4 linked regions of the Homo sapiens genome follow. The protein of the gene in region 3 purifies or fractionates together with the protein of the main gene of each other region. This does not show direct contact. Each region holds a gene or a part of one and is shown on either strand. Other genes may lie near its edges.

Region 1 (7,027 bases), on a different chromosome or scaffold from region 3:
TGTGACCCCTTATAAAGATGTGTGTTCAACAAAGTACCCCACAAAAATGTTAAATTGTCTCCAGAATTTACACTGGTCAATTTTTGAAGTTTCCACTCTTGACTGAGACCTAGTTATGTAACTTGGCCTTATAGCTGGACAACACTCAACAATGTCAACAAATAAGATGACACCAAAAATCAAGTCTCACTGGACCACTTCCCAGAATATGCAACAAATTCAGAATACGTCAACAAGGAAAGCACTCGGCAGAGAGAGAAATAAAAGAGATATTTAATGCTAGTGAATTAAAAAAACCCCACAAACCCAACAATGTCATTTTGCCATGGCTATGTTCAGCAAACTCACTCATGGCTATGTTCGACAGACTCATTCATGGCTATGATCAGCAGACTCACTCGTGCCTATGTTCAGCAAACTCACTCATGCCTATATAGGTTCAGCAAACTCACTCGTCTCTGTCCTCCCTGTGACACACAAGGGAGCCAGCACTCCTGAGTCACCTGCCTCAGGTCATTAATGCTGACTGGTGAAGCCAAGGAATTACATTTCACTAAACTATAACCTCAAAGGAGCTCTCATTTTGAGGCCTGGTACTGTTTCATCTTTCTTTCTAATTCTGTGCTCACGTTGCACCAACCCATGAGTCACTGCCACTAGGAGCCATGCCCCCCACACAATGCCTAGAACCCTAGCTCTACCCATTTCTCTCACTGAAGAAAGCTTTAAGCAATGCAATTAAACTTCAAATCCTCTGTAATTTGTTAAAAGTTTATCATTTACATTTAATACTTTATTAGTAATATCAAATTACCAGCTAGAGATCTTACAACATTAGTTCTGAATTGCCAAACTAGATATTTACTCTGGGGGGTTAACTGTCATCATCAATACTGGGAATATGCTAATAAATATGTGGTAATACCAGCAACCAGCTTAAGTATTTATGCCTGACCTTGTGCTGAAAGGCAATTGCAAATAGCCTATATGTCTATAGGAATGTCAAAGTCATTGGAAGTTTTCTGTAAATGAATACATGCTTTAAGATTATAATTACACATATTTACAGACTTAAGATACAATCACTTTGGGCTGGGTGCGGTGGCTCACGCCTGTAATCTCAGCACTTTGGGACGCCGAGGTGGGCGATCACTTGAGGTCAGGAGTTCGAGACCAGCCTGGTCAACACTGTGAAACCCCATCTCTACTAAAAATGCAAAATTAGCCAGGAGTGGTGGCAGGCACCTGTAATCCCAACTACTCGGAAGGCTGAGTGGGGAGAACCACTTGAACCTGGGAGGCAGAGGCTGCAGTGAACCGAGATTGTGCCATTGCACTCCAGTCTGGGCAACAAGAGCAAAACTGCGTCTCAAAAAAAGAAAAAAAAACCAGTAGCATGTGTGGTATGTATTTATTAATCCAACTTTATCAGTAATCACTTCATATGCCGATGGTCTAAATGCACCAATTAAAAAAGATTCTCAGAATGCCAAGACCATTTCTGCAGAAATTAACCCCTTGGAATGGGCAGCATGCTTTTCTGATCCTGAGTACCTGAAGGATAAAGATGTTTCCAATATCCTATCTGGAATAGGGGCAGAAAATGCCTTAGAATTGAGAGCCTGAGGACAATATCACACCAGATAAATTAACAGAAAAAAAATCCTTCCTAGCCACAAACTGCACTGTCAAAGACTCCACAAAAAAGTGTGTCCAGAAAAACTCATCTCTGTGATAAAAAAAGATCCACCCTCAGATAAAGTATGTATTCTAAAACTAAAGACACAAAACTTAAAAAAAAAAAAAGCAGTGGTAGGAAAGACACAATCCAAAGGACAATACATTTCCCTCCCAGTTACCCGTCTCATCACAGCCAGGAAGCAGGCAGGGAAGGCGGCATGCAGGCTGTGAAGGCATGGGGAAATCTGATTGAACTACTTTTCTTTTTGAACTCCAGATTTAAGTTGGTGAAAGCTCACTGTGATTAGAAAGGGAAATTTTCCTAATCTTAAACATCTGAAATAACTTTTACTTCACCTAAATCACTGATCACTGCCAAAGTGACCCTGGCAAATCCAGTGTTCCCAAAGTCTGGCGTCTGAAGCAGGACATGTTCTAATGGGCTGAGTTTCCCAAACATTGCGTATTTTGGCTCTGAGTGCCCTAATGTTTCTGTGCATTAAGAATATTTTAATGCTATTTAAAGATTTGGAAAAAATCTTTTTAAATAAACCTTTATTCTGACACCAATGGTCCGATCTAATTTACATTCTTATATTGGCTAGTAATCAGAGAAATGAAAGTGCTAGTAAATATGTTCACACATGAGAAACATAATGAAAAGACAGTCGATCTTCTTATATTATGCATCAACTTACAGTATCTGCTTATGTCCAATACTATGTGATTAAACCAGACAAAAAATGGAGTCTGTGGTTGTTTCTATTTTACATTTTAACTTAGTACATAACACAAGTTTCTGATCAGTCTTTGAACTTAGGTTCTACAAATATGCAGTAAAAATAGCTTAATGAGAATAAAGCCACCAACCAGAAGAATATAACATTTTGCTGGAATTTCATTATATCTGCCATAAATATTCAAGTTGCTTGTTGTTATAAAGTCAAATATCACATAAACCAAGTATCAGTGTTTAATGAAGGCAAAAGTATCTCAAGTTTCCAGTTACTTTAATAATTAAAAGATTAACCACCCCCAAAATGAAAAATTCAGTTTCTTTAATGAAATCTTGTTTCTACAAGGGCTTTTAAGTAACACACAGGATTTAACCTGAGGCTGAGTATATATGAGGAAGCTAGCTAAAATTTTACAATTTTAAGACAGCCAGCTGGATTTACCACAAAAATTCAAATACACTCTTTGAAACAAAGACAAGGGCTCAAGTGGAGTGCAGTTATTTGATGCTATGTGTATTTAACAAATAGATATGATTTAAAACCTGTATGAAGTTTACCTGTATACTAGAATCTCCCTTTATACATTTTGCTCCTTCTATTATAGCCATGTATGAGAATCTCAGTTGATCTGGGGTCTGAATAAGACCCATTCGGTATTTTCTCATGTTCAGTAACACTTGTTTTATGTTAATATCATCTCCTTTTTCCATCTGCAAGAAAGGCAAAAAATGAGACAAGTCTTGTTATTGGAACCCAGGAAACAGAATCAATGCAAGATCATTGCTAAGATTTTTGCTATGCATTTTCTCCTCTGAAAGAACAACGATAATTTAACCCTCCAGCTATAACTGTTATGTACACAACAACTATCCCAGCCTACTCATCCCTCCCCACATCTCAACCCCTCAAGTAGTTGGAGGACTTTGATTCTTTAGCTGATTCACAACTGATTCCAAACCAATCATAGTAATCTCATTCCTTCTGGCCAGTCATTGGTTAAAGGAAGGATTTATAACCAGTTCTGGCTAGTATAAGGACTATTTTTTTTTTTAAAAGTCATGGCAGGAGTCAACCTTTCTGCTCATTCCCCTTCCGCCTCCTTCATGTCTGCACTACAGACACGATGTCTGGATATACAGCACCCATCTAACAATGGTGGAAAAGAGGCCAGGCATGATGGCTCATGCCTGTAATCCCAACACTTTGGGAGGCCAAATCACTTGAGGCCAGGAGCTAGAGACCAGCCTGGCCAACATCGCGAAATGCCATCTCTACTAAAAATACAAAAATTAGCTGGGTGTGGCGGCGCATGTCTGTAATCCCAGCTACATTGGAGGCTGAGGCTGGAGAATCGCCTGAACCCAGGAGGCGGCGGTTGCAGTGAGGTCAGATAGTGCCACTATACTCCAGCCTGGGCGACAGAGCGAGACTCCATCTCAAAAATAAATAAATAAATAAATAAATAAATAAATAAATAAATAAATAAATAAAAATGTGGTGGGTCACACCTGTAATCCCAGCACTTTGGGAGGCCAAGGTGGGCAGATTATGAGGTCAAGAGATTGAGACCTTCCTGGACAACATGGTAAAACCCCGTCTCTACTAAAAATACAAAAATTAGCTGGGCATGGTGGTACGCACTTGTAGTCCCAGCTACTCGGGAGGCTGAGGCAGGAGAATCTCTTGAACCCGGGAGGCGGAGGTTGCAGTGAGCTGAGATTGCACCACTGCACTCCACCCTGGCAACAGAGCGAAACTTCGTCTCAAATAAATAAATAAATAAATAAATAGAATAATAAAATAAAATGAAGAAAGACGGTGGAAAAGACAGCAAAAGCCCAGATCCACGATAACACTGCTGAGCTACAGCACTGCTCTGGACTACTGACCTAGTGTTAGAATCCCCACACCCAGGCTCACCAAAAATAAAAGAAAAAAAATTGTTGAAGTTATAGTTGGCAGGGAACAGGTGTCATTAACAAAATAATCACCAGAGTTTTAAAACTTTGATGTAACAATCTAATTTTGATTGAAGTATACTATATATACGCAGAGTGGTAAAGTAATACAGATGTTTAGTTAAGACTCAACCGTTCCCAATTCCTAGCTTTCATTAGAGATGCAACGTCTGAAATGTTCTTCCAAGAGTATCACTCCTTCCAAGAGTATCACTCCATTGATCAAGCTCCTTGTGTGTGTGTTTACAATGAAAAGCATCATCATATTAATTCACCTGGGAATCTACTTTGTGCTGGCAGTCATGGTGGAAAGCATAAGAATGCTGACATAACTGCAATGAAGCATAGCTACGTTTTACAGAAACATCGAAGAGACTAATACAGGGCCTTAAAGTCAAGGTTAAGAACACCAGTCTTGTGTCAAGCGTGGTGGCTCAAACCTGTAATCCCAGCATTTTGGCAGGCTGAGGCAAGAAGATCACTTGAGCCCAGGAATTTGAGACTAGCCTGGCCAAGATAGTGAGGCCTTGTCTCTACTAAAAATAAAAAAGCAAAAACTAGTTGGGTGTGGTGGTGCAGGCAGCTACTTGGGAGGCTGAGGTGGGAGGATCACTTGAGTCCAGGAGGTTGAGGCTGCAGTGAGCAGTGATTGCACCATTGTACTCCAGCCTGGGTGACAGGGCAAGACTCTGTCTAAACAAAGACAAAAACAAAATCCCCACCAGACTGAATACCAGGACAAGCTAAACTGCTTAGGTTATTGATAATCTTAGAACACGCTCAGAAAGCAGAAACTAAGCTGCAGGGACTACTGAAGGAGTAGATGGCATGGAAATCAAAGCAGACAGTATTATTGTTGGGTTTGATCCTATAATAAGAGGAAGAAGTAAAGACAGAAGTTAGGAGAAGTATAAGGGCAAACAGAAGTTTCATGTATCCCAAGTAACGAAAAAATAAAGGTCCTAAAAAGAGAAGAAAAGATCTAGGCTGTATACAGGCTGGGACTGGGAATGACTGGTGGAGAAAGAATTAGCCGTTGGGGGCACAGACAGGAACCTCAGGGGAGTAACAGTAATACTGACATTTATGGAATGCTCAGAAAACATCAGGGACTCTTCTAAGTCTCCTTAATGTATTAATTCATTGAATTCTCACAGGAACCCTGTGAAGTATGTCTATCATTATCCCTAGTTTTTAAATTTAAAAAATGAGATAAAGTATCTGTCTGAGGAGGAAGGAATTCAATATTACATATGAATTTATATTTGAAAAAATGTGGGGGAGAGACCTATTATTTCTGTAATATAAAGCTACCAGGAAGAAAAACACCTTCTTAGGGATCTCTAAAATCATCATGGATACATTCCTACCAGTCATGAATAAGAGGCAGTTGCAACGGTGGAAATGAGATTTTTAGGTTTTTCCAAAAGTAGAAGTTTAAGTTGAAAAACCTCAGTTCTGGGATACAGCATCAGAGTTTATTCACTGCCAGTGGAAGCAATTTAAAAAAAAAAATCAATGAGATTAAAATGAGATCGTAAGAAGCACTTACCAAAACAAGACAAGTGTCTACCAGAGAGAAGGTGCCAGAGCGCCCAATGCCTGCACTACAGTGGATCACCGCAGGCCCATGGTCAGGGTTCAAGGAGCCAGATTCTCTCACTTTAAACAAGAAATTGAGAAATGAAGCTGGTGATTCAGGGACTCCAAAATCTGGCCAGGTAGTATAATGAAAGTGAGATATTGTTCTGGTTTCACCACTCTAAAAAGTGAAAATCAAGGGAGAAGTTAGTTCTAACTTTTTTCTTTTAAAAAACTACTTCAGAAAGATCATGTGTTTTATATAATTCTTTAAAGCCATATAGGCTGTTTATACTATGATTTTTCCATTTGTTTTCTGACAATCCCATATACAAACTAGGGAAGATTTTCTTTAGTGGAAATTTGTGATGTATTAATAATAGCTAACGCATACAACACTTACTATTTTGGAGGCCTGTTCTAAGCACTTTACTTATTAACTCAATCCACACAATAATCCTATTAAAGCCCATTTTCCTGATGAGGAAACTGAAACAAAGGGTAAGATAGTTTGCCCAAGGTCACACAGCTGGAACATGGCAGAACCAGGATTTGAAGCAACCTGGGGCAGCCTTTGGGTTCTCAGCTACTAATCTGTTACCATACATGTTACCAATATTTTCTTTAATTCATGTATCATGAATGGGCTATTTTTTTCTATTTTAAAAAATTTCTGCCGGGTGCAATGGCTCATGCCTGTAATCCCAGCACTTTGGGAGGCCGAGGTGGGCAGATCACTTGAGGTCAGGAGTTCGAGACCAGCCTGGCCAACATGGTGAAACCCCGTTTCTACTAAAAATACAAAAAATTAGCCAGGCGTGGTGGCGCGTGCCTGTAATCTCAGCTACTTGGGAGGCTGAGGCAGGAGAATTGCTTGAACCTGGGAGGTGGAGGTTGCAGTGAGCAGAGATCGTGCCATTGCACGCCAGCTTGGGCAACAAGAGTGAAACTCCATCTTCAAAAAAAAAAATTTTTTTTCTACCAGTATAATTTTACATTCTTTAACATTTTCCTTTTTATGAATTTCAAAGTTTATTTTTTAAATATAATCTCCCGTTCACATGATTATCT
Region 2 (6,423 bases), on a different chromosome or scaffold from region 3:
GAATTGTGGCAAGAGTGCAGAGGGGGAAAGAAGGAGGTTTCCCAGTTCCGATGGCTGACTAATGGGAGGAGGAGATGGAGAAAGCACAGTAAACAGACTGGACTAAAAGTTGCTTGTGTGCACGGGGGGAGCTGTGGGGTCAGGATGGGAGTGATTCCAGTGTCCAGATTGTTGTGAGAGCTGCTGTGTGGGAGATTCCTGAATAAGCCAGACCTTGGAGTGAGAGGTCTGTGAGGGGCCAAGGCACTGGAAAGAACCGCCGGCTTCATGCATGGCAGGGGTCACACACAAATCTGGGAAGGCACACACTGGAGCTCATGATGCTGAAAGGCCTTGAGTAGTCACACTCTGAAGATACTGCAGCTTCTCCTTAGCAGGGAGAAAGCCACAGGAAGTCCTCTGACCACAGACAAGAGGCCCACGGAGCCCTGGGGCAGGAGGTCGCCTCCTACACCAGGCTCTGTCACTTCTGACCCACCCAGGGCCCAGAACAGCTACAGAGAACAGAGAATTTTACAAAGAGTTTGATTTTATTGATATTTAAATATATTAAATATTTCACTGAAATACATGGTTCACCATCCTCCCCCACCCCCACAGTGGTTACATTATAAAACCAAAGCCCACGGCCTCCCACCTCCTGACTCCTCTACCAACTGGGTGAGGAAAGGGACAATGGTAGCCCAGGGGAAGGGCATGGCTGGCACTGTGGTACGGGGATCCAGGGTGTGGACAGGCCCTCCCACCTGGCAAGAAGCAGAGACAAGCCACCCAAGGCTGAGGTCTTCCCACTCTGATCTACTTATACCCTCACCCCTACCCCATGGCACCAAGTAGTCTCTTCCTATCCCTTCCTATCCAGGGATATGGCTGGGGACAGGGGAGTAGATTTTCTGTCTGGAAAACAAGTCTTTTCCCCTCCTTCTGCCATGACTAATGAAGTACCTGATGGCCCATTTGGTTGATGCATGAAGATGCCCAAGGGAGGCATTACCCAGAAACCAGGCCTCCACAGGGAGCTGGTGTCAGAAGGGGCATGAGGAGGGGCAAGTGCACTGCCTGCCCCTTCCACTCCCAAACCTAGCAACTCTGGAAACCCTTCTCCTCTGCCTCTCTAGTCATTTCCAAGACAAAGTGATCTTCAAGCAAAATTCAGGCTAGTGCCTTTGGCTTAAATAGGTACAGACAGAGAAACTGAGGCACCAACAAATTCAGGCCAGAGTCAAGGAGGTTGCAGGGAAAGGGGTAAAAGGAAGGCAAAGACAGGAAGGGAATCTAGAGTTCAACCTCCTAACCCTTCTGCCAGCCCTCAAGGCTTCACAAGGGACTGGGGAGCTAGAAACATGCTAGACTCAGGCTGAAGGCTGGGGAAAGCCAAGTTTAAGGTTCCTCTTCCCCACCCCGTAGTACCAGTATCCAGGTCCTCAGAGGGATTCCATGCTACCCCAGCCCCAAAGCATACCATGTCCCAGGACACTATCTGGGGAAGCCAGGAAATTCCTCAGCCTCTGTCCATCAAACCCCAGACAGTTCAAGTGCTGGCATGGAGCACTGGGGCTTAAGCAAGCGCTTGGGTCCCTGCCACAGACAGGGAGAGTCATGCTGCACACATGGCCCCCGAACGGCACTTAGGGATTTGGCACAAAAAGGACTCCTCTCCCTCCTTTTGCTACCACACCCCATCCCACTCCTGTGCAACCTGGGCATCTCTCTACATCCCCTGAAGTAGGAAACCCTGCTTTATTCCCAGAAGACAGAGGCCCACAGGAGAGAGGCAACCTGGGGTGGAGAGCTGAGGAGCAGGAGCACAAGGACTCACATAGACCTGGAAAACAGATATGCACACAAAGACCAACATGCACACACAGTTACACAAACACACGGGCCCTCCCCAACACCAGAGACTTGGGAGGGCAGGTTTGGGATCAGGGTCACCTTTCTCCATGCCCTGACCCTTTTCTATTTGGCAACAGAAGAGGAAGAGATGCTCCATGCCCCCTTGTCAGCAGACAGCAAGAGAGCACTGGGGCAGAGTGACCTGATCTGGACCCCGACGGGGTCCTCAGATCAGAGTCTGGCACTGCCCCAGCCCTGGCCGGCCTGCTCTTTGGCACCTGCAGGTGAACTTCCAGCTCCTGACCTGACATCCCCACACACAGGCTTGCTCTCTGAGCATTTTTCACAGTACCAGTGAGGCCAGACACCCCGTTCCCTGGAGCGTGCAGGAACTGGGGCTAAATCTAAGCTGTCAGAGGTCCCTTTGTTCCCCTTTGGGGACAGATCATGGGACTAAGATTTGGCACATGGAAACATTCTCCTGAAATATGGCCAAAGCTGGCTCCCCAGAGCTTCTCCCTCCTCTGCTCTGTGCATAGGAGGGACACCTGGCTGGGGTGGGGAAGTGCCCAGGACCAGTGCTGGGGATGCAGGTATTGCAAAGGCAAGCATGGAATAGGCACTCCTCATGCCTGTCTTTGTACAAAATATTGTACAAAATATTCCCAGGAAAAAAGAGGGAAAAGAAGGGCTCAGCCCTGAACCTGCTGCCCAGACAGACAGGGAAGGGTAGGCATGGCAAGCTGCCATTTTAATCCCTCAGGCAAGAGGCCTCCCTCTGCTTCTGCTACTGACCCCTCCCCTGCTCCCAAAGGCTGGAAGATTGGAGAGGGAACAGCCCTACCCCAAGTAAGAAAGAAAGTCACTTGCATAATCCTCTCGGTAGGTAGCCCCTTGTTTTCCAGCTTGAGGGCAGACGAGCATGATCCAAGCACAGCCTGCTGGGATGTTCCCTTTTGTGGTTAGCAGGGTCTGGAGGCTCAGTGCCCCCTGCCACAGCTCCACCCAGTGAGCACAGAGTCCACTCAATGCCCACCTTGGTCCCTTCAGCTGAATTTGTGGCTGGGCCCTGTTAACTGCTGGGGCCCCCATTGAGGAAGTAGGTGGTCATCTCCCCCTTGCCCTTCACCTTGACCACCCCTCGACACTCCAGCTGGTAGCCCTTGGCAGCTAGAACCTGGTACAGGTCCGTGGTCACCTGGGGGAGTGGGAGGGGAGCCCGCTTAGCCTGGAATCCTTCCTGCTGCATTTGCAGGGGCCCAGGGGTTCTCTAGTCAGGCTAGCTCCCTTCCCCCAGTCCCTGCCCCACCATACACAGAACACTAGCCACCCTACCCCTGTCCTAGCAGACTGCAGAGACACCTGTGGAAGCCCTCCGGGCCCATGTTCCTCCCAGCCCCTGCTCATATCCCCCTCACCTGGATTCGGTCGGGGACCCCCGTGCTGTCCATACGACTAGAGACATTCACTGTGTTCCCCCAGATGTCATACTGTGGCTTCCGAGCCCCGATGACACCTGCCACGACTGGGCCCATGTTCAGCCCTGAGGTGGAGAGAACAGCAAGAGACTAGTGGATGCTCCAGGGTAAACCCAGGGAGTCATCCCACCTCCTGGCACTGGTAGAAGGACCCAGAGAAAAAAATGGAAAAAGGACAAGTCTCCTGGTTGTAAAGAACAATCTAGTTCAAGACGAGCCTGGCCAACATGGTGAAACCCTATCTTTACAAAAAAAAAATACAAAAATTAGCTGGACAATGGTGGTACATGCCTGTAGTCCCAGCTACTTAGGAGGCTGAGGTGGGAGAATAGATTGATTGAGCCTGGGATTTGAGGCTACAGTGAGCTGTGATTGTGCCACGGCACTCTAGCCTGGTACAGAGCAAATCCCCATCTCAAAAAAAAAAAAAAAAAAAAACCCAAAAAACAAATAAAAATACCCAAAGACCTGAGCACCTCAGTTTAGGAGCTCCCCTGAGTCAAGACAGCCATGCTATAACAGTAATCTCCTGAATGCCTATTCCATGTCAACCACTCTAGTAAGCATTTTACCTGGCTTCATCCTTTCTTTTCTTTTTTTTTTTTTTTGAGATGGAGTCTTGCTCTGTTGCCCAGGATGGAGTGCAGTGGCACAATCTCAGCTCACTGCAACCTCTGCCTCCCAGGTTCAAGAGATTCTCCTGCCTCAGCCTCCCGAGTAGCTGGGATTACAGACATGTACCACCACACCCAACTAATTTTTGTTTTTTTTTTTTTTTTGGGGGGGACAGAGTCTCGCTCTGTCACCCAGGCTGGAGTGCAGTGGCACCATCTCGGCTCACTGCAAGCTCCGCCTCCCGGGTTCACACCATTCTCCTGCCTCAGCCTCCCGAGTAGCTGGGACTATAGGCGCCCACCACCACACCCGGCTAATTTTTTGTATTTTTAGTAGAGACGGAATTTCACCGTGTTAGTCAGGATGGTCTTGATCTCTTGACCTCGTGATCCGCCTGCCTCGGACTCCCAAAGTGCTGGGATTACAGGCGTGAGCCACTGCGCCCGGCCTAATTTTTTTTTTTTTTTTTTTTTCAGTAGAAAAGGGGTTTCACTATGTTGGTCAGGCTGGTCTTGAACTCCCGACCTCATGATCTGCCCACCTCGGCTTCCCAAAGTGCTGGGATTACAGGCATGATCCACCGCGCCCGGCATGGCTTCATCCTTTCAACACCTCTAAAAGGTAGGTATTATTATCCCCATTTTATAGATAAGGTAACTGAAGCTTAGAGAAGTTAGAAGACTTCTCAAATAAGCCAGTAAATGGAGCAGCCAGAATTCAAACCAAATAGTCCATCTCTAGTAGCCATGCTATTAACCACTCCCATCCACCAGTTCATTTGAGAGGAAATACCTCTTATTGGACTGGTCACAGATAAGGACAGAAGTATTCAAGTTTATATAAACCTGATTTTTAATCCCAGCTCTGCCACTTACTAGTTGTTTGACCTTGGGCAAGTTATTTAATCTCTCTGAGAGTCAGTCTCTATCCAATGAAAGGCGATAATAGTATCAGGATTAAAATATGCTCAAAAATTTATAGGACAGTGCCTAATGATCTCTGTTCTTAATATCAGACTTGATATAGGAGGTCAGAGGGAAGAAAACCCCACAGGAGCCCTGATGGGAAATCTGTGATCCCATCCCCAGCCTATAATCCCAGCTTCACCTGGAAAAAGTCCTGGGAAAACCCGCCAAGCAACAAAGCCCTCTTACCAATCTTCATCTGGAAATTGTTGAAGGAGTGCTCATTGATGTGCTTCATCTGCTCCATGAGCCGCATGGCGTAGTCAGCCAGGGCAGTGATGTGGGAGCGGCCCACCTGATCGTAGGTGCTGGCGTTCAGCCCTGAGGCAGCCATGTAGGTGCTACCAATCGTCTTGATCTTTTCCAGCTGCCGGAACCGCTCCTCGCTGATAATCTGAACAACACAAGGAGACCTGGCTGTCAAGGCAAAGACCCCAGACCCAGCCCTGCCCCAACACTCATTTCTTGCCACGCCTTGGCTGCCTTCCCCACTTCCCTGTCTCAAGAGCCCCCTTCCAGCTGCTGCTATCAGTGTAAGACTGAGGAGCTGGGAAAACAGGCAGCCTAGGACTCCAGGCAGGACTTGGGCATACAGCTTCAGAAGGTCCCTCCAGTAGCTCACTCACAGAACACAGACCCACAAGTGCAATATTAAGCAATTTCTCCAATCCTTACCTTTTGGGATACTGAGTCCCAGAGTGAGCAAGTGACTTCCCTCCAGAACAGTGAACAGCCCATTCCTGATCTGGATGTTCAGGACACTACCTCACATTTTGCTTCAATTTTCTCTATTCAGAGGACCATCTTGCTTGGTTGGTCTCATGAGGTTCTGTCCACAGACTATTGCCTTCTTCTTCAGTGACATCCACCTGGTACCTATCCTATCCCCCTACAGATCAAGTCCTCCCCTGCTCCCCAACAGTGATGACCCTGCCCCACTAGGGCTGACCCCCTTGCTGCCTCTGACACCTTCATGGGTTCTTGCCTCTGCCTCCACTGTGCATACCCTTACCCCTGATGACTCTGGGTCCCATCAAATCTCTCTCTCTCTTCCCAGTTCCACTCACCCATTCCAATCCCTGGTCTCCAAGTACCCCCCACTCTCTGCCACCACCAGCCAACTGGAAAAGTACCTCATCAAAGTCAGCGATGATCTCGTTGAGCAGCCGCAGGCACTCGACACCCTCATTGTTTGCCTCCAGCTCCACATAGAACTCAGAGAAGTTGGCAATGGAGGCAAACATAACAGCCACACACTCACACGACTGATAGTAGAGTTCATCATTGCGGCGCTCCCGGGCCAGGAAGTGGGCCGCCACGTCCTTGGGCAGAATGTTATGCAGCAGCCTCCGGTTGTATGCCTGTAGCTCCTCCATCTCCTCCTTCTCCCCTGTTGCCTGTGGACACCACACCCATCACCCATTGCCCGACATTCACAAGGGGTAGGTGTGGTGGCCAAGGCTTGGAAGTGCGGATAAGAGGGAATCACATAGAGAAAGAAAGGCCCAGACAGATGAGGCCTAAAGAAC
Region 3 (6,835 bases):
GAGGTTGCCGTGAGCCAAGATCGCTCCACTGCACTCCAGCCTGGGAAACAGAGCAAGAACGTCTCAAAAAAAGAAAAAGAAAATCAATCAATGTAATACACCACATTAATAGAATGAAGAGGAAACACCAAGTGATCACCTCAATTTATGAACAAAAAGCAAGTGACAAAATCCAACACGCTTTCAAGATAAAAAGCATGTGACAAAGTCCAACACTCGTTCAAGATAAAAAGCATGTGACAAAGTCCAACACTCGTTCAAGATAAAAATGCTGAATAAACAAGGAATAGGTGGAAACTTCCTTCACCTGATAAAGGGCATTTATGAAAAATCCACAAATAACATCATACTTAATGGCGAAAGACCTAAAGCCTTCCCCCAAAGATCAGGAACAAGAGAAGGATACGTGGTTTCACCGTTTCATCTCCTCAACATTGTACTAGAAGTTCTAGCTAGAGCAATTTGGCAAGAAATGAACTTCTGCACTGGGGTGGGAAAAAAAATGGCAAGAAAAAGAAACAAAAGTTAACCAAACTGAAAAAGAGGTAAAACTATTCATAGTCACAGATGACATAATATATACATATATAGAAAATCCTAAGGAATACATGCATACACACAGAGACACACACACACACACACACAGACACGTACACACATACACAAACTTTTAGAGCTAATAAAGTCAGCAAAGTTGCAGAATTCAAGATTAACACACAATAGCCTGGCTCAGTGGCTCGTGCCCGTAATCCAAGCACTTTGGGAGGCTGAGGTGGGTGGATCACTCGAGGTCAAGAGTTCAAGACCAGCTTGGCCAACATGGTGAAACCCTGTCTCTACTAAAAATATAAAAATTAACTGGGTGTGGTGGCGCACGCCTGTAGTCCCAGCTACTAGAGAGGCTGAGGCAGGAGAATCACTTGAACCTAAGAGGCGGAGGTTGCAATGAGGTGAGATCACTCCACTGCACTCCAGCCTGGGAGACAGAGTGAGACTCTGCCTCAAAAAAAAAAAAAAAAAGTTAACACACAAAATTCTGGTTGGGCACAGTGGCTCATGCCTGTAATCCTACCACTTTGTGACGCTGAGGCAGGTGGATCACCTGAGGTCAGGAGTTTGAAACCAGCCTAGCCAACATGGCAAAACCCCGTCTCTACTAAAAATACAAAAATTAGCCGGGTGTGGTGGCATGCACCTGTAGTCCCAGCTACTCGGGAGGTTGAAGCTGGAGAATTGCTTGAACCCGGGGGGCAGACGTTGCAGTCAGCCAAGATCGCGCCACTTCACTCGAGCCTGGGTGAAAGGGCGAAACTCCATCTCAAAACAACAACAACAACAACAAAAATTCAGTTATATTTCTATACACTAACAATGAACAACGTGAAAAGGAAATTAAGAAAACAACTCCATTTACAATAGGATACAAAAGAATAAAATACCTAGGAAAAAATTAACCCAGGAAGTAAAAAACTTGTCCACTGAAAATACAAACACTGGCTGAGCTTGGTAGCTCACTCCTGTAATCCCAGCACTTTGGGAGGCCGAGGTGGGCAGATCACCTGAGGTCGGGAGTTCGAGACCAGCCTGACTAACATGGAGAAACCCTAGTCTACTAAAAATACAAAATTAGCTGGGCATGGTGGTACATGCCTGTAATCCCAGCTACTCCGGAGGCTGAGGCAGGAGAATCACTTGAACCCAGGAGGCAGAGGTTGCAGTGAGCCGAGATTGAGCCATTGCACTCCAGCCTGGGCAACAAGAGCGAAACTCTGTCTCAAAATAATAATAATAATAATAGGGCTGGGCGCAGTGGCTCACACCTGTAATCCCAACACTTTGGGAGGCCAAGGTGAGTGGATCACCTGAAGTTAGGAGTTCGAGACCAGCCTGGCTAACATGATGAAACCCCATCTCTACTAAAAAATAATACAAAAAATTAGCCAGGCATGGTGGTGCACTCCTGTAATCCCAGCTACTCAGGAGGCTGAGGCAGGAGAATCACTTGAACCTAGGAGGCAAGGTTGCAGTGAGCCAAGATCGCGTCATTGCACTCCAGCCTGAGCAAGAAGAACAAAATTCTGTCTCAAATAATAATAATAATAATAAATAAAAAATAAAACACTGAGGAGGTCAAAGAAAATCCACATGGCAGCATGTCTGACTTCTGAGCCTCCAGTCTATAAGGCCTGTGCTGAAAGGATCTGCACTTACTTTTCTCCTCTTTACAGCCAAGGTCACCAGTGGAAACTCTCAAGGACAATACCTGTGTCTCCTCCAAGGCCCATCCCTCGTGCCTAACACAGTTCCTGGCAGAGACCAGGTACTCAGTGTGTGTTTTTGCTCTGGGCTGCAAAATAAAGGTTTTCTGATCACTCTTCAACTCAACAACCTTGGCACCCTACTGCCTGTGGAATAGTGGGACAAACACTTTATCCTTATTTGAAGCCCTGCCCAGTCTGTCCTGACATCCCAAGATTCAGAGCACTCTGCCCTATAGGGGCCTCCCTGGCTCAGCCTAAAAAGTTGAGTAATATACGGTAATTGATTTAGCAGTGGCAGTGTCTGCCCTTCCCACGGCCTCTCCTGTTCTAAAGAGTCCACAGATGAATTAATCCACAAATACTTATTAAGAGTATAGTGGCCTGATATTGGAATGTTCAAAGCCTTCTGCTTAAGAGTTTGTGTGCGGCCGGGCGCGGTGGCTCACACCTGTAATCCCAGCACTTTGGGAGGCCGAGGTGGGCGGATCAGGAGGTCAGGAGATCCGAGACCATCCTGGCTAACACGGTGAAACTCCGTCTCTGCTAAAAATACAAAAAATTAGCCGGGCGTGCTGCATGCGCTAGTAGTCCCAGCTACTCGGGGCTGAGGCAGGAGAATCGCTTGAACCTGGAAGGCAGAGGTTGCAGTGAGCCGAGATCGCGCCACTGCGCTCCAGCCTGGGCGACAGAGCGAGAATCCGCCTCAAAAAAAAAAAAAAAAAAAAAAAAAGAGATTGTGTGTGTTGGGGAGCAGGGCATGTGGACACAAGGTCTCCGCCCTAGGAGAAGTGCTGGAGAGTAGGACAAGTACCACTACTTCGGACGGGGAGGGCGATGCCTCCAATGGGGGGCTTCCCTGATTCCTGCAGATCATACGTTGGCCCCCAACTTCACACTGGCCAGAATCCCGGTTCTAGTCTTTTCCGTGCCACCAACCCCTGGGCCCTCTTTCTAGAAGGAAAGAAAACACCTTTGGCCTCTGCCCAGAGCTACAGACACCTGAAGTAGGAGCAGGCAGGAGATGCGTGGTGGATAAAGACCAGAGAGACTTGGGATCGAATTCCACTCTCACCCCCAGTTCAGTTTTCTTCAGCTTGCTGCTCCACAGGCAGGATGTGAAAATTTAGATGCCTCACCCCTCGCACCTCCAGCTTGCTGCTCCAAATAGGCAGGATGTGAAAATGTAGATGCTTCCCCCCCAACCTCTATAAAACAGGGCCGACGAGGATGGGATTCGAACCCACGCGTGCAAAGCACAATGGATTAGCAGTCCATCGCCTTAACCACTCGGCCACCTCGTCCTACGTGACAGGTTTGTCCACATTCACTTATCTCTCATCTACTCCGCACCTTCCAAGCACTACCACGTAAGTCGCAACGCAGACCTCTTCGGACACAGGGAAAGAAGAAGCCGCGGAAGGAAGGGAGCGTTTTGATTTCCTTTCTGCTGAGCCCGCGCCATCCTTTACCACGCTGCAGCCGAGCTCTGCCGCGGTTTCCCTCCGAGTCCGGCCGAGCGCGCCGCGCGTTCAGGGCGCGCCCGGTCCAGGGTGCGCGCGCCGGCGGGGAGGGAGAGGAGTGCGTCCCGGGAAGCCGGCGGGGCCCGGGCGGGCGGGCGTCTGCACGGCGCGCGGCCGAGCGGCGGGGCCGTGGCTCCTCCTCCCTCGTAGGGGGCGAGCCGGCGCGCCGGGGGCTGGGGGCGGTGGCGGGCGGCGGGCGGCGGGCGGCGGGCGGCGGGCGGGGCGGCGCTCGGGGCTCGGCTGGCCTCGGCTCGCCTCGGCTGCGCTCGGCAGGCTGCGGTAAATCCGGGCTTGCGGCCGCTGGCGTAGTCTGTGGCCGGGTGGTCGTTGCTGCGCGCCCCGAGCCCCGAGAGCCATGCAGATGTCCTACGCCATCCGGTGCGCCTTCTACCAGCTGCTGCTGGCCGCGCTCATGCTGGTGGCGATGCTGCAGCTGCTCTACCTGTCGCTGCTGTCCGGACTGCACGGGCAGGAGGAGCAAGACCAATATTTTGAGTTCTTTCCCCCGTCCCCACGGTCCGTGGACCAGGTCAAGGCGCAGCTCCGCACCGCGCTGGCCTCTGGAGGCGTCCTGGACGCTAGCGGCGATTACCGCGTCTACAGGGGCCTGCTGAAGACCACCATGGACCCCAACGATGTGATCCTGGCCACGCACGCCAGCGTGGACAACCTGCTGCACCTGTCGGGTCTGCTGGAGCGCTGGGAGGGCCCGCTGTCCGTGTCGGTGTTCGCGGCCACCAAGGAGGAGGCGCAGCTGGCCACGGTGCTGGCCTACGCGCTGAGCAGCCACTGCCCCGACATGCGCGCCAGGGTCGCCATGCACCTCGTGTGCCCCTCGCGTTACGAGGCAGCCGTGCCCGACCCCCGGGAGCCGGGGGAGTTTGCCCTGCTGCGGTCCTGCCAGGAGGTCTTTGACAAGCTAGCCAGGGTGGCCCAGCCCGGGATTAATTATGCGCTGGGCACCAATGTCTCCTACCCCAATAACCTGCTGAGGAATCTGGCTCGTGAGGGGGCCAACTATGCCCTGGTGATCGATGTGGACATGGTGCCCAGCGAGGGGCTGTGGAGAGGCCTGCGGGAAATGCTGGATCAGAGCAACCAGTGGGGAGGCACCGCGCTGGTGGTGCCTGCCTTCGAAATCCGAAGAGCCCGCCGCATGCCCATGAACAAAAACGAGCTGGTGCAGCTCTACCAGGTTGGCGAGGTGCGGCCCTTCTATTATGGGTTGTGCACCCCCTGCCAGGCACCCACCAACTATTCCCGCTGGGTCAACCTGCCGGAAGAGAGCTTGCTGCGGCCCGCCTACGTGGTACCTTGGCAGGACCCCTGGGAGCCATTCTACGTGGCAGGAGGCAAGGTGCCCACCTTCGACGAGCGCTTTCGGCAGTACGGCTTCAACCGAATCAGCCAGGTGCTCATAAGGGAGAGGGCAGGGGTAATGGGGCAGGAGGGGTGGTGGGATCAGGGAGTTATGAGGAGTGGCCCTGGATGGAAAGGAGGCAATGAAGCAGGAGGGATCATAGTTCAGGAGGTGGGTGGATGGTGTGGAAGATCCAGGATACTTCCAGAGGGGTGAGGACGCTGGACTGTGGCTTTAGGGAAGTCAGTCTCAGGCCTGTCAATGTCATCAAACTTTGCTAACCTGTCTTTCCTCCTGCAGGCCTGCGAGCTGCATGTGGCGGGGTTTGATTTTGAGGTCCTGAACGAAGGTTTCTTGGTTCATAAGGGCTTCAAAGAAGCGTTGAAGTTCCATCCCCAAAAGGAGGCTGAAAATCAGCACAATAAGATCCTATATCGCCAGTTCAAACAGGAGTTGAAGGCCAAGTACCCCAACTCTCCCCGACGCTGCTGAGCCCTTCCCTCCCCTAATCTGAGAAGTCAGCCTCTTGGCTCCTCAGGCCACCATTTAGGCCTGACTGGGGTAAGAAATGTCGCTCCACTTTACAGAGGTAGCTGTGGTGTTGAAACACTGGACTTGGATATGGGGTGCTGGGATCGATTCCTAGCTTTACCACTAACTAGCTGTGTGGCCTTGAGTAAATCCCGTTACCTCTCTGAGCCTCGGTTACCCTGTCTGTAAAAAGGGAGGTGAGAATACCTACCTCACGGAACTGTTGGGAGGCTCAGATGAGATGCTATATGTGAAAACATTCTGTAAGCTTCGTACAAATGTGAAGTATTAATATTATCGCAGTATTATTGTTGTTATTATTATTGTTATTATTAACAATCTTGGGTGGGTAGTAGGAGAGCAAAAAGTATGAATGGGATGGAGCTAAGAAGTCTGAATACTTAATGAAATGGACTTTTTGGAAAGAAATCAGATGAAGGCATAAAATTTAGTTCTTAGCTCTTGAACAGAAGCCTAAAATTCCTGGTTCTCTCAGGGCTTCGCCTTCAAGGGTTCTGGAGGAGGGAAGGGTCTGCAGGTTCCATGGGTGACAGCCTGAGATCTGTCCCTTCAACGGGCTGGGCTGGGTATGTGCCTACCGATGACAATGTGTAAATAAATGCGTGTTCACACCCACAGCTGGCTCCGTTACTCTCCTGAGCTGGGGGTGGGGGGATCGGGGCCGGCTTCTCCCCTTGCACGCCGTGGGGAGATGGCCGCGGACGAAGGGCACCGTCTGCAAAGCACTGAACCATCAGGGCCTTCCCTGCAGGCCGAAGGCCTGCGCGAATGTCGGCCAGTTACTATGGAGACCGGCCCGCGGTATCCCAGCATGCCTCGGGACCAAACTGTCCAACTGTGAGCATCCCCGACGGTCGCCTCCTGATGACGCACACGGAAGCACCGATAGGCTCTGCCTCCCGAAGAAAAGGGAGCCGCGCAGCGCCTACGGGAGTCCGGCGGCAGCAGCCGGTACCGGCAACCACGGGCAGCTCTCAGGGAATCTCCGTCGTGAGGCCAGAGGCTCCAGTCCCCGCGGTGCGTATCGTCATGCATGGCTTTTGGTTCGCCCTCTCCGGTTAGTCGAGCAGGGCCGGCACAACCTCCTCCTCCGAGGCCGAAGCAGAGATTTAACCGGCCTGACGCGTGCTGGGCTGCGGGCG
Region 4 (7,027 bases), on a different chromosome or scaffold from region 3:
AGGAGGCATTAACTTGCTGTGCTTGGTCAGCATCTTGGCCCTTGCCTATGCTGTAACCTGGAGTACTGCATTGGTGAGTGGCTCCATGGCCTCCCTTTCATCCACACGCATGCCCCTTGGAGTTCCCGACTGCAGCCCAGGCGTGGAGACAGCCCCTCATCCCTCAGCTGGGCTGGGCCCTGCCCCCTTCAGTCCACACCTCGCAGTACACCGCTGTCTAGGGCCATGTTTCCTTGTCTCCAGTTGTCACCAACTCCCGGGGAGTCTTTACAGAGCACTGCTTTCATCAGGTTGCCCCTTCACCTCAGAGACACTGGGCTTTGCTTTGTCAACTGATTAAAATCCTGACAGCTCAGTCAGGCTTCAGTCTAAGCCTGCTTGTCATCTTCCTCGTAATTTCTGTTATCCCCTGACAGGTTTCCTTGGTGCAGATGTCCAGGCCTTCTGTGCTCTCAGCATCCCTTGCAACTCACATTCCCTCCTGCTCCTCTCCTACCTGTTCTTTTCTAACCTTATGGCTCTACTCAGCTTCTCCTGGGCCATAACTCTGCTGTGGCTGACCCAGCATGTTTTGGGGTGCTCCGCGACATGCCTGTTACTGAGGGTTGCATATGTGAACACTCTTGTCATTTACATCCCTGTTAAGCTCTTGAAAGGTAGATGGCAGATTCTAGTGAGAAAAGTATGTGATATTTAGTGAGGAGACCTTGGTTTGAGTCCTTACACCACCCTGCCTGGAGTGTGAAGCTCTAGGCAGGCACAATGCCTGAGCCTCTCCTTGCTTCTCATCAGGCTGTTGTGAGGGTCAGATGAAGTGAAATGCCTGATTGTTCATTGTTAATATTTCTGCTAATCTTTCAGACACTGTTTGTATGCGTGTGTGGTGTGTGCATACATCTTGATGCTGCAGGGTGAATGTCGTTATTCCTGTTTCACAATGAGGAAATTGAAATCCAGAGATGTCAAAAGTGTTTTCAAGGCCATATGTTTGGAAAGCTGTGATTTAAAATTGGGTCCTTTGATCTTCAAAACCCGCTACTCTGCTGCAAGTGACAAAACCTGAATCAGTAAGACAGGTTACATGCTTTGGGGAGTGTAGAGTCTATAGTGCGGTCAGCAGACATGTTCCATAAAGGGCTAGATAGTAAACATTTAGGCTTTGCGGGCCAGACGGCCTCTGTTGCAGCCATTTGACCCTGCTGTTGTAGAGTGAAAGCAGCCATAGACAATAGTAATGGTAGGGGTGTGGCTGTGCTTCAGTAAAAATTGGAAGTGGAAAAACAGGCACTAACCAGCCTGGGCAACATAGTGAGACCCCATCTCTACAGAAAATAAAGAAGTTAGCCAGGTGTGGCACTTCGGGAGGCCAAAATGGGAGGATCACTTGAGCCCAGGAGTTCGAGACCAGCCTGGCAACATAGTGATACCCTGTCCCTACAAAACATTTTTGAAAATTAGGCGTGGTGGTGGTGCACACACCTCTAGTCTCAGCTACTTGGTGGGTGGGGGTGCTGAGGTGGGAGGATCTCTTGAGCCTGGGAGATTGAGGTTTCAGTGAGCCATGATTGGGCAATAGAGCAAGACCCTGTCTCAAAAAGAAAAACAGGCATGGGCCCTGATTTGGCCTACAGGCCATCGTTTGCCTACACCTGGTCCCACAGTGCTTTGCCCATAGTAGATGTGTTATTGAGCAAAAGAGGCTCGCTGCCCAATGTGCTAGAAGCCAATACTGTGACACCAGGATTTGGGGAAAAGAAAAGCTTTATATTGAAGGTTGACTCCCTAGGAGACCGGAGTCCAGCTCAAATCTGTCTCCCTGTGCTGGCTTTAAGGCAGTAATTTTATTAGGAAAGGTTTAGAGGGTGGATACTAGGATTAGCAGATGATTGATGGAAGGAAGGGTGATTTCTGGGAAGTCTTTGAGCATGCCCAGTTATCTCTTGATGCCACCTCACAGGTCCCATGTGCAAATTCCGGGGGGAGTTAGTATGAAACATGGCAGTGGAAATTCAGGCTGTGACATCGGCAAGCTCATTCTGCACAACTCCAGTCGGCCATCTTGGTTCCAGCTTATTTCAGCCAGTTCTTTTATCTCATAAGCGGAGGGAGTTTCTGGGTTTCAGCAAATTGTTTCTTTTCTTATCTGCCATCCTGCAAACTCAAGAACTTGTATTAGTCATTGGTTTCTTTAACTCTGTGGGGCACGGTTTCCAATGCCCATTAAATCCCTTGAATTGGACCGTCTTTCTTCTTCCTGTGCTCAGCTGCCCTTTCTGCCCTCCCTCATTTCTTCTGCAGTATGTGGGTGCCCCGGTGGCTTATGTCCAGCAGATATTTGTGAAGTCCTCAGTGTTTCCCTGGCACAAGAACCTCCTGGCAGTAGATGTATTTCGTTCACCTTTGTCCCGGGCATTCCAACTGGTGGAGGAGATCCGGAACCACGTGCTGAGAGACAGGTACCCCTCTCAGGGACCCTGGCCTCCCTGAATCCCATTCTGTACTGAAGGGAGAGTTACAGTCCTCAGTGTAACTGCAGTGAGCCAGTCAGCTCTGCAGAGATAGAACAAGCAAGAAGGATGGAGGGTGAGCTAGCCTTGAATTTCTCAGCATCCTTGTGGGTCTACGGTGGCTGCATTCCGCTTGGACCTATGCAGATGGCACACACATAGCCTTGAGTCTCATCCTTACATCTCAGATGGAGTCAGTGTCCACTGTGCTAACTCATGACCCACATGGCTTCCTGCCTGTGGGTTATGGTGTGAATGTAATGGTGGTGTCTCTGCCGACGAGAAGCAAGCTCTACCTGGGGGTACCTTCTGAAGCCCCAGCCCAAGTCGTGCTCCCCTGCCTATCAGTGGGTCCCTGGGTTATGCTGGCTTGGCATACAATGTGTGTAATTGGCAAGCTGCATCACTGCCAGGTTTTAGTTAGCTAGTGGCGTTGACAGATATTTTGGTGAACTAAATGAAGCCCCTAATTTACCCCGGTCCCTGCTCATCCACTGAACTGGCCAGGGTGTTTTAGTGGGTGGGGTTGTGCATGCTCTTATAGTACACTTGCCCGTCCTCAGAGCTGATGGGCTTTTGGGCTTCAGATGCACTTTGAAAGTCAGACAGCCACATGTTTAGGTTATTGGCCACCTGGAAGTACTTCCCCCTGCTGCCCTAGTGGTCAGGCTCTTTGGCGATACCAGAGAGCAAATATGGGGCATTGAAGAACAGACAGAGGATGTCCCCTAAGTACAGCAGGTCTGCCCTGTGGTGGCAGACACAGCAGGTGCCTTGTCCTGTCTCCTGTGCAGCTCTGGGATCAGGAGCTTGGAGGAGTTGTGTCTGCAAGTGACCGACCTGCTGCCAGGCCTTAGGAAGCTCAGGAACCTACTCCCTGAGCATGGATGCCTGCTGCTGTCCCCTGGGAACTTCTGGCAGAATGACTGGGAACGCTTCCATGCTGATCCTGACATCATTGGGACCATCCACCAGCACGAGCCTAAAACCCTGCAGACTTCAGCCACACTCAAAGGTAGCCCCAGTACAAGTTCCCTTCAGACCTGTAAAGGTGCCCATTGGTCACCGTCTTTTTGATGTGTGCTTAGGCAGATCAGGGTTTACCCTTTGTTTCCCAGGGTGGGGGTGAGAAAGGGGTCCTTGGTGGCTCTGCAGTAGCTGTCATTTCTGTGTCAGTACCTGCTGGTTTCTGCTTGCAGACTTGTTATTTGGTGTTCCTGGGAAGTACAGCGGGGTGAGCCTCTACACCAGGAAGAGGATGGTCTCCTACACCATCACCCTGGTCTTCCAGCACTACCATGCCAAGTAAGATTGACAGTACCCTGGGCTCTTGACTGGTCTGCTGGGTGACATGAGGCTTTGAGTAGTCCCTCTTCTGGTTAGAGTGTTCTGAATGCCCCCTGGAAACTTGGGAGAGTTTCCAGGCCTCCTGTTGAATGTTTACATCCCTCAGACTAGATGATGCTGTCTACCACATTTTAATGGGGATGACCTGACAGCTGGTTAAGCATAGGGGACTAAGGTAGGGCTGGCGGTCTCAGTGTCCTGGTGCCTCCTCTGGTCTCTCTTGAGCCTAGGGCAGGCATCCCCAGCTGGTTACTACTGAGCACCCTATATGGCCTGTGTCCTTCCCAGTGGGGCACTGCAGGCAGCTCCCCAATTGGCAAGGGCACTCGAGGTGCTTCTGATCGGCTCTCCTAGGCCTCTGGCAATCAAGAGTGTTGGAGGCCGGGCGCGGTGGCTCACGCCTGTAATCCCAGACTTTGGGAGGCCGAGGCAGGCGGATCATGAGGTCAGGAGATCGAGACCATCCTGGCTAACACGGTGAAACCCCGTCTCTACTAAAAATACAAAAAATTAGCCGGGCGTGGTGGTGGGCACCTGTAGTCCCAGCTACTCGGGAGGCTGAGGCAGGAGGATGGTGTGAACCCAGGAGGCGGAGCTTGCAGTGAGCCCAGATGGCGCCACTGCACTCCAGCCTGGGCGACAGCGAGACTCTTGTCTCAAAAAATAAAAAATAAAATAAATAAATAAATAAAAAAGAGAGTGTTGGAGTAGGTCCGGAAAGGGAGACAAAGAAAGGAGCAGGGGGAGCTCCTGAGAAAACTTTGTCCCCTTTGTGATTTTCCCAGTGCCCCTGGAGACTATAGAGAAGCTCAGGCACCATAGAGAAGTTCCCTTTCAACACAGGGGCAGGAGGGAGGTCCTGATGGACCCTCTGTCCGGGGATTGTCTTTGTCCCCAGAACCAAGAGCAACACTTCCATTTACCCCCACCCTGCTCCTTGACCAGGTTCCTGGGCAGCCTGCGTGCCCGCCTGATGCTTCTGCACCCCAGCCCCAACTGCAGCCTTCGGGCGGAGAGCCTGGTCCACGTGCACTTCAAGGAGGAGATTGGTGTCGCTGAGCTCATCCCCCTTGTGACCACCTACATCATCTTGTTTGCCTACATCTACTTCTCCACGCGTAGGTTCATGGCAGGGAGGCTGAGGGCTTTCTCCAAGCTAAACGGGCATTTCCATGTCACCTGCTTCCCTGGCTCTGGAGGTGGCTTGGGGTAGAGAGATAGAACACACCTGGTGGTCATCAGAGCTAGGGCTTTGTCCCCCAGCAGGGTCTTAGGAGCTTGGGTGGGGCCGGGGCTCTTCCCACTTTCAGCCCCTTCCTGGGTTAGGGTTCCTAAAAGGTGTACTGTGTCCATGACACTGGGAAGTGCTTGTGCCTGTCCCTTTCCTTTGGTGAAACCAGGAGTTTTCCCTTCCTCGACTGTCAGGGCAACCTACTCCCGGGAGCCCCAGTGGGCCGGGGGCTGGGGGAGGGGCCGCCCTGATACGCCCTCTCTGCCCTCCAGGGAAGATCGACATGGTCAAGTCCAAGTGGGGGCTGGCCCTGGCTGCCGTGGTCACAGTGCTCAGCTCGCTGCTCATGTCTGTGGGACTCTGCACACTCTTCGGCCTGACGCCCACCCTCAATGGCGGGTAGGTCCCTAGCAGGCTCCACTGGGCCACAGGGTGGGCTCAGGCCAGAGAGCCTTGCACTTCTGGGTTCTTGGCCTTCCCTGGACTTTGCTGTGACCTCACGTCTTCACATTGTTGTTTTTGACATTTAAGAGGTACATTTTCTTCCTCTTCTTTGTCTGGCTTGTATTCATACTTGTGTTTGTATATAGCATATCTAGCTATAGTGAGTGTCCATATGTACAAAAGTGCATATTTGTGGGCTGGGTGTGTATATAAGGGGTGTGTGTTGGTATGTTTGTGTATACATGAGTATGTATTGCATGTGTGTAGTCGGATTTGTGTGTCTGTGTTTATGTATTCTATATACACACACCACACACACACTGCAGCTTGATGGCTTAAGCCACTGGAGGTGTGAGATAGAGAAGAGAACATTTTTTTTTTCATGATTAGAACATTTAAATGCCTAATGAAATAGGTCATTTTAGAGGAAGCTCTTTGGAAGATATGAGCACACTGTAATTTGTCGCCTTTTTCACTGATGTTTACTTTCCCCTTGCCACTCCTCTCTGAACCTTAGTCTGGAAGCCCTTCCCTCGGCTTGTCCTCAGGCTTTGATCTTGGCTCTGGCTAGGCCCGCCTGCCTGTCTATTAATGGTTATTAATGGATTATGGATTGGCCTGTCCACCACTTTGGCCCATCAGGCTGGTCGTATGAAAAGCGACGTCGTATTTTGTTTCTGGTAGTTTCGTTGCTCTTAGATACCTGCTCCCTTTCCTGAGCTTGACACTGTTAAACACCACCCTCCCCCATACCGTCTGCCATACCCTTCACAGGGCCCTCCCTTCCTTCGGCTCCAAAGCAGAGGTCCTGCAAGGTATAACTTGGCTGGCGTTCCTCGCACATAGACTTTCTTAGGGTTTGCTGCGGGGAGTGTGGGACAGTGGGCTCAGATAGCTGGTAGAGCTTTGTGTAGGAACAGTCGTTCTTCTCCACACACAGCTTCTCAACAAAGGTGAGTGGGCCTTCAGGATGGTTTCATCTCCTTGCATTTAGCTGTGATGGGTCCACCCAGAGTTACTGGTGTGGGTCTTGGCAGCAGTCATTGTCTTTAGCCAGCAGTCTTCTCCTGGGAAGGGCCAGCAGAAGTGTGGTCTAGCAGTGGCGCTGCACAGCTCTCCCTGAGGGGCCTCTTCCAGCCCTCCTGTGCTGGATGGCTAGAGACAGGATGGCTGCTGGCCCCTCTGCAAGGCTCTGGAGCCTGCCTGAAAGCTGAGTGCTGTGTAGATGCAGGTCTTGTTGGGTGAGGTGGACAAGGGAGGGTTTCTGCCCAGCACCTGTGGGAGTCACTCAGCAGCCCCCATGACAGGCTGGAAACCCCACAGCCTTCCTGAGGGCCCCAGTCTGTTGGGAACCACCACAACACTGTCCTCACCTTCTCCTTCTCTGTCCCCAGCGAGATTTTCCCCTACCTTGTGGTGGTTATTGGGTTAGAGAATGTGTTGGTGCTCACCAAGTCTGTGGTCTCAACCCCGGTAGACCTGGAGGTGAAGCTGCGGA

The links.
Region 1: the proteins of B4GAT1 (region 3) and PTPN2 purify together in Homo sapiens (co-immunoprecipitation; 3 studies listed by BioGRID and IntAct, with this or other methods). This does not show direct contact.
Region 2: the proteins of B4GAT1 (region 3) and ADCY6 purify together in Homo sapiens (co-immunoprecipitation; 3 studies listed by BioGRID and IntAct, with this or other methods). This does not show direct contact.
Region 4: the proteins of B4GAT1 (region 3) and SCAP purify together in Homo sapiens (co-immunoprecipitation; 3 studies listed by BioGRID and IntAct, with this or other methods). This does not show direct contact.

The regions. Positions count from the first base shown.
Region 1 is NC_000018.10:12,811,229-12,818,255, forward strand, and holds part of PTPN2 (tyrosine-protein phosphatase non-receptor type 2), read right to left. Parts: intron 6,138-7,027; coding exon 5,928-6,137; intron 3,128-5,927; coding exon 2,975-3,127; intron 1-2,974. UniProt on the Homo sapiens protein: Non-receptor type tyrosine-specific phosphatase that dephosphorylates receptor protein tyrosine kinases including INSR, EGFR, CSF1R, PDGFR.
Region 2 is NC_000012.12:48,765,683-48,772,105, forward strand, and holds the end of ADCY6 (adenylate cyclase type 6), read right to left. Parts: intron 6,356-6,423; exon of another isoform or gene 6,293-6,355; intron 6,292-6,292; coding exon 6,028-6,291; intron 5,778-6,027; exon of another isoform or gene 5,289-5,777; coding exon 5,084-5,288; exon of another isoform or gene 4,945-5,083; intron 4,551-4,944; exon of another isoform or gene 4,406-4,550; intron 3,380-4,405; coding exon 3,255-3,379; intron 3,035-3,254; coding exon 2,909-3,034; 3' UTR 512-2,908; downstream 1-511. UniProt on the Homo sapiens protein: Catalyzes the formation of the signaling molecule cAMP downstream of G protein-coupled receptors. Functions in signaling cascades downstream of beta-adrenergic receptors in the heart and in vascular smooth muscle cells.
Region 3 is NC_000011.10:66,344,847-66,351,681, reverse strand, and holds B4GAT1 (beta-1,4-glucuronyltransferase 1), read left to right. Parts: upstream 1-4,052; 5' UTR 4,053-4,136; coding exon 4,137-5,192; intron 5,193-5,441; coding exon 5,442-5,633; 3' UTR 5,634-6,308; downstream 6,309-6,835. UniProt on the Homo sapiens protein: Beta-1,4-glucuronyltransferase involved in O-mannosylation of alpha-dystroglycan (DAG1).
Region 4 is NC_000003.12:47,423,942-47,430,968, reverse strand, and holds part of SCAP (sterol regulatory element-binding protein cleavage-activating protein), read left to right. Parts: intron 1-2,298; coding exon 2,299-2,456; intron 2,457-3,301; coding exon 3,302-3,522; intron 3,523-3,706; coding exon 3,707-3,812; intron 3,813-4,799; coding exon 4,800-4,972; intron 4,973-5,357; coding exon 5,358-5,484; intron 5,485-6,923; coding exon 6,924-7,027. UniProt on the Homo sapiens protein: Escort protein required for cholesterol as well as lipid homeostasis.